Linked DNA regions of Homo sapiens: region 2 is linked to region 1. A link means that fine-mapping ties the variant in region 1 to the expression of a gene that starts in the linked region. Tissue or cell type: lung. Region 1 holds a variant in brackets; the other region holds the start of a gene. All regions are shown on one strand. Distances are from middle to middle.

What was found. PIP is the estimated chance that this variant, and not a neighbour inherited with it, causes the effect.
Region 2: PITPNM3 starts here. The variant in region 1 is fine-mapped to the expression of PITPNM3 in lung (TOPMed, PIP above 0.99).

Annotation. Positions count from the first base shown.
Region 1 is chr17:6,503,662-6,507,817 of GRCh38, forward strand. The region is part of intron 3 of PITPNM3 (PITPNM family member 3); the gene reads right to left. Among named protein-coding and RNA genes, the nearest start is that of PITPNM3, 51 kb to the right of the region's middle. The variant C/A (reference allele first, on the strand shown) is at 2,413.
Region 2 is chr17:6,554,962-6,559,117 of GRCh38, forward strand. PITPNM3 (PITPNM family member 3) reads right to left here and starts at 1,594. Exons shown (of 20, transcript NM_031220.4): 1 at 1,424-1,594. The coding sequence starts at 1,445. RefSeq lists an enhancer at 1-505.

The sequences.
Region 1 (4,156 bases):
TGACCCTCACTCTAGAGCTTGGGATGGGCAGAAGTATCTCCTACCACTTCATGCCCTGCTCTGCCCTGACCTGACCTAGCCCTTGGCCCTTCATGCCACACCTGATGCCATTTCTGGGGAGAGTACGGCCTGGCTCCTCTGCCTCCTCAGGCGTTTTCACCTCTGTCTTGTCCTCCAGCTCCTCCTCTCCTCCCTCCTCTATAAAGCAGCGGCTTCCCAGGAGCTGCCTGCCTCTCTATACTCACTCTCTCCTCTGAGGGTCCACACTGAACTCCAAGCCCACAAACCACTGCCAGGGCTCTGCCTCTGGCCCAGGCCTCTCCCCTTAGCTCTGGATCTGCATATCCCACTGCCCCCCAGACGTCTTCTGTGGCCACTCCCAAACACTGCACACTCCCCATGACCAAAGCTTCCCTAGAAGTCTGCGGCCCCTCCCAAAATGTGTCTGTGGCTTCCTCTAGGGCCCCAGGTCTCTGAGGAAGGTTTCCAAGGCAGAAAGCGAAGTCACCTCCTGGTCTCCCCAAGGGACTCGAGAATCCTTCCCCATGCAAAGCTACCTCATTTCTTCCCCTACAGAACTGAAGGGCAACTCCAGTCTAAGAACCTCCTCCATCTCCACAGCCCACACTCCAGGGCCTGGTAGATGACTCCTCTCCTGACCCCATGCCTGCCTCTCACAACCCCGTGCCTGCCTCTCACATGAAACTTCTCCAGGTGTTCATCAGAATGAACTTCTCCAGGTGTTCTCCAGATGGATTCATTAGAATCCATCACCCTGTTTCTGTAGCCCTCTGCCTGCCAGGGCCATCTTCATGGCCCACGTCCCCTGAATCCTGGGGTCATGGCCCCCGGGCTCTCTCAAAAGCAGGCAGGGGTAAACAATGGGAAGAGTGTCCAGCTGGAATCTGGAGGCTGACTCCATTTTAGGCTCCCTCTGGCCTGCTGTGTGATGTAAGGCACAGCACTCTCCCTCTCTGGGTTCATTCCTACAAGATAGCACGGATCCAGTGCTCGCTAAGAACCTCCAGGTCCTGAAAGCCCTTGAGTGACACTGCATTATAATTGGATACCTGGATTCAAATGCCAGCTTCTTCACTTACGAACCATGCACCCTTGGGCAAGTTACACAACCTGTATATGCCTCAATCTTCCAATCTATAAAATGGGGATAGTACTGGTACTTGCCTCGGAGGGTTACTGTGGATATTAAATGATTAATATATGTAAAGCCGGCTAGGCACGGTGGCTCATGCCTGTAATCCCAGCACTTTGGGAGACAGAGGTGGGCGGATCACCTGAGGTCAGGGGTTTGAGACCAGCCTGGCCAACATGGTGGAACCCTGTCTCTACTAAAATACAAAAACTAGCCAGGCGTGGTGGCGCATATCTATAATCCCGAAGCTACTCGGGAGGCTGAGGCAGGAGAATTGCTTGAACCCAGGAGGTGGAGGTTGCAGTGAGCCGAGATCACGCCACTGCACTCCAGCCTGGGTGACAGAATGAGACTCCGTCTCCAAAAAAGAAGACAAATAAAATATATATATATATATATATGTAAAGCCTTCAGAACACAGTCAGGCACAAAACAGGTGTTCAATAAGTGAGGATGGCTCTGATTCTTGTTTTATTTACTTGTTTACTTCTAACCATTGATTCAAGACCTTGTCCCTTTTGTCTTCATCATGATCCCAGGTGCAGCCAGATAGAGACAATCAATGGTTAATGCTAGATGCCAGCTCACAGCACTCCCTAGACCTAGGGGCCGTGACAAAGCCTAGGCCCAAGAGGGGCCCAGATAGAGAACAGAGACCTGGACACCGTCATAGAGCAGTCCCCACACAGCACAATAGGATGGACGCAGACTGTTTCCCAGGTGCAACAGCAGCACAGATGTGGACAGAAACAAGGAATGACCCAGTATCCAATACACAGGTCAGGGAGCGAAGACCAGCACCATGTCTGAGCACCAGCTAAGGCCCATGAAACTCTGGCGTCCCTAAGAAGTCAACTTTGACCACCCAGCAGAGCTGGGGCCTAGCAGAGAAATTAAGACATAAGACATGCATTCAAAAAACGCCTTCTATGGGCCAAGCCCCATGCTAGGGGCCATGGAGGATACAGAGATGAGGAAGTCAGAGTGAGTGAGGAGCAAGAACACCTCTGTGCAGAGAAGCACACGGCTAACTGCAATGAGAGGCGAGACCGGCGGGGAGAGACGGGGAGGGAAAGATTCATTCTGACTGAGGACTCCAAGGAAGCTTGTGCCAGAGCAGAGATTTCAGTTTTGACAGTAGAGGAAAGGGCATGGCATTCCAAGCAGCCAGCAAGATCATGTTTATGGAATGCCAAGTTCAAGGCAAAGCGGGGGTGTGAGAGAGCATGGTCCCATTTACAGATAAGAAGGAAGGAAGG[C/A]AGGAAGCCCATTTACAGATAAGAAAACCAAGGCCTGAAGAGGTGAAGGAGCTTGCAGACTCTTCCAAATCCAAACCTCCTGCTTTTTCTATCATACTCCACCAAAACCAGCTGCATAATGAGGAAGGCCTCATGCAAAAAGGAAATGCCGGGTCCCTTGTTCAAACAGAAAAAAAAAATGTTGCTAAAGGTACTAAAATATAACATTTTTCCTTTTCCCTGAGGATGCTCTAAAACCTGTTATGGTGTTTTCTTTCTTTCTCTCCTTCCTTCCTTCCTTTCTATTCTTTTCTTTTCCTTTCTCTCTTTTTTTTTTTTTGACAGAGTCTCATTCTGTCACCAGGCTGGAGTGCAATGGTGCGATTTCGGCTCACTGTAACCTCCGCCTCCCAGGTTCAAGCGATTCTCCTGCCTCAGCCTCCCAAGTAGCTGGGACTACAGGCACCCGCCACCACACCCGGCTAATTTTTGTATTTTTAGTAAAGATGGGGTTTTACCATGTTGGCCAAGATGGTCTCAGTCTCTTGACCTGGTGATCTGCCCACCTCGGCCTCCCAAAGGGCTGGGATTACAGGCGTGAGCCACCGCGCCCGGCCAGTGTTTTCTATTTGCTACTGTATTTCCTCATGCCCAGGGAGACTTGAGGGATGAGTGCAGGCCCTCCCAGGCCCCAGGGTCCCTGCTCCTTAGCTTGGCACGTACACACAGGCTCCACCAGCACCCAGGATCCCCCTCCTGCCAGCCACTGGGCCAAACAAACCATGCTGTGAGTGACAGTTGGAAAGTTGAGCCAAGCATGCACCCCTCCCACAGGCCTGCTGGCCCCATCCAGGGTAGACAAGAGTATTGCAACCTCCATGCTGAAACGCACTAGTTGAGTGAGAGGTTTTTTCCCTCTGAATCACCCTTGGAATGCTCTATGGCACTGCCAGCCCAGGGTGGGGACAGCTGCCTCGCCCCAAGACATGGTGGAGTATAAGCACCTAACCTCAGCCCTGCCTGCTCCCAGGCTCTGGCTTGGAGGGAGGCCAGCGGCTGTCCATGGGCAGGGGAAGGAGAAGAAAGCTGGGTGGGGGTGGGGCTGAGAAGCCAGAGGGCAGGAGAGCAGCAGGCCAAGATCCCAGGAGGCTTCAAGGCGGCAGGAGGCAGGACCATGTGAGAGCCGCCCACCAAGTACCCCCACACATATGCACTGTCCCGTCAGACTTCACTCACAAAACACAAACTTGGCCGGGCATGGTGGCTCACGCCTGTAAACTTAGCACTTTGGGAGGCCAAGGTGGGTGGACCACCTGAGGTCAGGAGTTTGAGACCAGCCTGGCCAACATGGTGAAACCCCGTCTCTACTAAAAATACAAAAATTAGCTGGGCGTGGTGGCGCATGCCTGTAATCCCAGCTACTAGGGAGGCTGAGGCAGGAGAATCACTTGAACCCAGGAGGCAGGGGTAGCAGTGAGCCGAGATAGTGCCACTGCACTCCAGCCTGGGCAACGGAGTGAGACTCCATTTAAAAAAAAAAACAAAACACAAAAACACAGACTTGAAGATAACACCATTCGGACTTCAGAACAGCAAACCCAATACCTGCAGCCCTCTGGAGCACTGGCCCTGAGCCCTGACTATAACACAGACACTTCTGGCATTTCTCGGGCATCTACTATGTGTCAGGCCCTGGAGGAGGGGAGGACTCCAGCGCAGGGAGGAGCCGGGTCTGAGTCATTACCTCCACATTCTCATGCCAAGT
Region 2 (4,156 bases), 51 kb after region 1:
TCCCAGTGCACACACACACTCACACACACACAGGGTAGGGCAGCAGATGGGACACACGCCCTGCCACAGGCCATTTTAAGGAGTCGGGGTGGGTGAGGACCCAGGCACGGTGGAGGAAAGAGGGAGGCAAGAAGCCTTTTTCAGCTTCCTTGGTGTCATCTCACAGTGCCTCCCTCAGGAGGGGAAAAGGGAGGGGAGTGAGAAGGCTGTTTAGCTGTGTTCCATACTGGCTGTGCCTCACACAACCGGCCCCACCCCGACAGGACTCCTTGGGGACAGAACGGGAGTGCATTCTCAGGCACCTAAATCTTACAGGCTCAGTGCCTGCACAGGGAGACGGGTCCGCAGCCCAGGGTCCCGGGCAGCTTTCGGGCTTGGGGGTGGATTGACACACAGCCCGATGGTATTCACACCCATTCCTTCACTGTCGCGCCCGGTCCTGGGGGACGGCATGGCACCAGCCAACGTCACGGGTTGGGTGTGAGTTCATGGTAGATTCTCACACGCCAGCCTCACAAGAGGCACTGCCGAGACCAGGCTTGCTGCCGCCTACTGTATGGCCGGCCCTGTGGGCACAGCTGTCCTCCACCCGCCTCCCAAGGCACCATCGGGCCCAGAATGTGCCCGATGAGTCACGGGCCTGGGTCTCCCCAGCATGGGCGCAGCAGGGGGGCTGAGTCCGCCTGAGCCCCGGTGCCCAGCTCAGGGTCTGGCACAGAGCAGATGCTAGTGAATGAACGTCGGGCTGGATGAATGAACGAATGACTAATGCCCGCTCCCTCAAACCACAGGCTACACCGTCTGAGCCTGGGGGAGGGCAGAGCCCACGGGACCCCAGAAGAGGCCTCCGCAGCTGAGGCTTTGCGTCCCAGGGTCGATGGGGGAGGGGGCGGGGCGGCCAGCAGCCGGCGCGGCACGGGGCTCCCCTCCTTCCCGAGAAGGAATCTGGGTCTCTGGACTGAGCTGGTGACGGGGGCTGGGGCGGGGGGTTGTGGCGTCCTGGATGGAGAGAGCTGCAGGAGCAGGGGGCGCGTCCCGGTTTGCGTTGGGGTGTGGGACGAAGCGGCGGCCGCGGGACATCCCCTTCGGTGGCGAAGCCCGGGTCTGCCCGGGGCCTCCGCGGGGTGCAGAGGGCTCCCAACGGCGGGACTGGCCCGGGGCGCCGCAGACCTGGCCCTTTCCGGCGGGGCCGTGGAGAAGGGGACGCGGTGTCCCCCGAGGTGACCGGGGGCGCAGGAAGGACGGGGGGCGCGCGGAGCCCCCTCTCCACGCGCGGGAGGTCCAGCCCCGCTACCGCCCCCTACGCCCTCCCGGGACCTCCGCCCACCTGCGCGAGGGGTTCACCTGGGCCGGCGGCCCCTCCTCTAGACGCGCGAGTCCCTCCCCCGGGCCCCGGCCCTGCCCTCCCCGCGCCCGCCCTCACCTGCACGGCCCGCCTTGGCCATGTCCCGGGCGGCGGGCTCCGGCGGCGCTACGCGCGCTCCTCGCGCTTCCCGGGCCCGGCCCCGACCGCCTCCGGCCCCGAACGGACTCCGAGCGCCGCGCCCGCGCCCCCGCCCCGCTCGCCTCGGCTGCCGCCACCGCAGCCGCCGCCGCCTCGCCGCTCCCTCCCGCTCCCTTAAAGGCGCCGAGCGGCGGCCGCGCCCCCCCCCCACCCCACCCCCCGCGCCGCCGGGGAGGGACTGACGAAGGAAGGCGCCCAACGCCGCCCCCGCGGGCCCGCACCCCCGCCCCGGGCCGTGGCCGCCGCGCTCCAGCCCGCTCCGCTCCGGCCCGCGCGGCCACCGCAGCGCGCGAGGGGCGGCAGCCCAGGGGCTCAGAGACGCGGAGACAGCCCGAGACACTGCGGGCCAGAGACGGGGCCCTGGACTGGGAGAGGGGCGCACAGACTATTAGACAGCGCTGGAGAGAGACGCTCCTAGGGCCAGAACGCCGAGGTGGAGGGAGAGAGAGAGAAATTCAGAGGAGACCAGAGACCCAGAGCCCGGCTCCGGCTCCGGGAGAGACGGACAGAGGGAGCGGAGAGAGGAAGGAGGACAGGGATCCAAGGGAGGCCCCCACGAAGTCAAGAGGAAAGTCGCTCTGGGATCAGAGACAAGAGAGGGACCCCCTCCATCAGCCCCCGCTCCAGGGGTTCTGGATCATTTATGGCGTCTGACCTAACCTCAAAAGAGAAAGGATTCCCGTGATTTTAACCCTCAAGGGATAAGTAAAACACTTGCACATCCACCTGGGGTTCTAGGCTGGAGCAGGCTTTGTGGACCCCAGCGGCCTGGTGGTGAGCAGTACCCGCCTTCCACTTCCTAAATCGGGATGCAGAGATTCTAGTGGACAGGCCTTGTGGTCCGGGGAGATATGGGTTATGACTTCTGTTTAGGGGCAGCAGGGATCCACAGTCCAGCCCCAAAAGAGAGCAGGAGATGGCCAATTGTATTTGGCGGTGCCTGAGAGGTAACAACCCTCCACTGAGAGGGTGCCCTGCCTCCCCCAGGAATTGGTAAGGCTGAAGCCCAGTTACCATCTGTAGAGCCAGGCACCCAACCCACCCTGTCCCACTCCACTTAACAGGGAAAAGGTCAACTGGAGAATTCCATCCATGGTCCAGGCTCCAGGGTCCTGCAAGCTCCTCTATGGAAACAGGGCACACATGGGGTTAGATGGGGGCTCTCAGTCCAGTGCCTTCTCTGGGGCTTTGACTCCATTCACAAGATTCCTGCTAAGCAGTCCTCCAGCTCCTGGTTGGTTACCTCCAAGGACAGGAAGCTCAGTATCTTAAGTGAGAGTTCTTCCTTTTATTAATTTTTTTTTTTTTTTTTTGGCTAGTGCTGGCCTTAAGAATGTTCTTACTCGTTTGAGCTGAAATCTACAACCCGCATGTCCCATCCATGAGTTCTGCTCTGCCTTCCGACACCTCACCCAACAAAACCAGGGCTTCCCAAGGCCTTCTACCCAAACTCCCTAGTATGGATTCACCCAGGGAGAACAACCATCCACGTTTGCCAGAGCTCACCTCCCAGGAAACCCATGAGTCCCAAGAGCTCTGGATCCCAGAGCCAGATGACAGCACCAACTCCAACAGATGTAGAATTTCAGAAGCTCTGGGCTCCTGAATCCAACGCTGTTCACCAGCACCTGCCATTGGTCACCAGCTGGGAGAGCAGGAATGGACCCTGCAGCCTTTCCCCACTATGAGAATGGGACTGGGGATGAGAATAACAAGGACTATTGATTGAACAGGCGGTATTTACCCTCATGTACTCTCTCAGCTACATTGCGTTATCCTCAGCATACACATAACGAAGTGGGGGCTAAGAAAGTTCGGTGCTTGTGGTCATGGAGGATCAATTTCAGGCCCCTGTGCTTTGTCTACTGGGCCTCACTGGCCTCACCCTTCCCTGAGGTGTTTCAGAGGCCTGATAGCCTGGACAATGTCCAGGCTTGGCCACCTGGTCTGTAGGTGTGAGTGGTCACGCAGGAGACAGAACGCTGGCTGCAGAAGAAGCAATGCGCCTGCCACAGAGGGGACACGCCTGGGCCTGAGCTCCTCCCCAGCCCTGGCTCACAGTAGCAGCAGTGACCAGAGGGCATCAAGGGCCCTCCTGCTTCTGGGCACAGCTTCACGTTGTGTTTGTGTGTGTGCCTGGGTATGTGTGCATGGGGTGTATGTGTGTGTGCTTGTGTGTGCTTAGGGATGCATGCATGGGTGTGTGTAGGCACACTCGTACACACAAACACAGGCAAACACCTGCTGACAGATGCTCCCTGGGTGGGCACCCAGACCCCTTCCCCTCCCACCACTTAGTCCTCACAAACCCTAAACTAGTCACCCAGAAGGGCCTGGGTGGAGCGGTTAAGGGGAGGTGCCAAGTTGATGGGAGTTTCAGAACTCATCTCTCCAGACCACTCCACACCCCATTTCTCAGATGGGAAGACAGTAAGCCAGATCTGTCCCCTGAAAACCACGACTCAGAGGCCCAGATCCATGGTTCCCCTCTTTAAACCTTCACCCCAGCCTCTGTCCGCCCCTAAGGCAGCCCCTGAAGGCACTGACTGTTACCAGCTGCCAAGGAAGTTCCAGCCCAGCCTTCTGACAGAGCAAACACATCAAAACTCAAGGCCATTAGATTAACTGGTGGGAGTTAACTTCCTGCGTCAG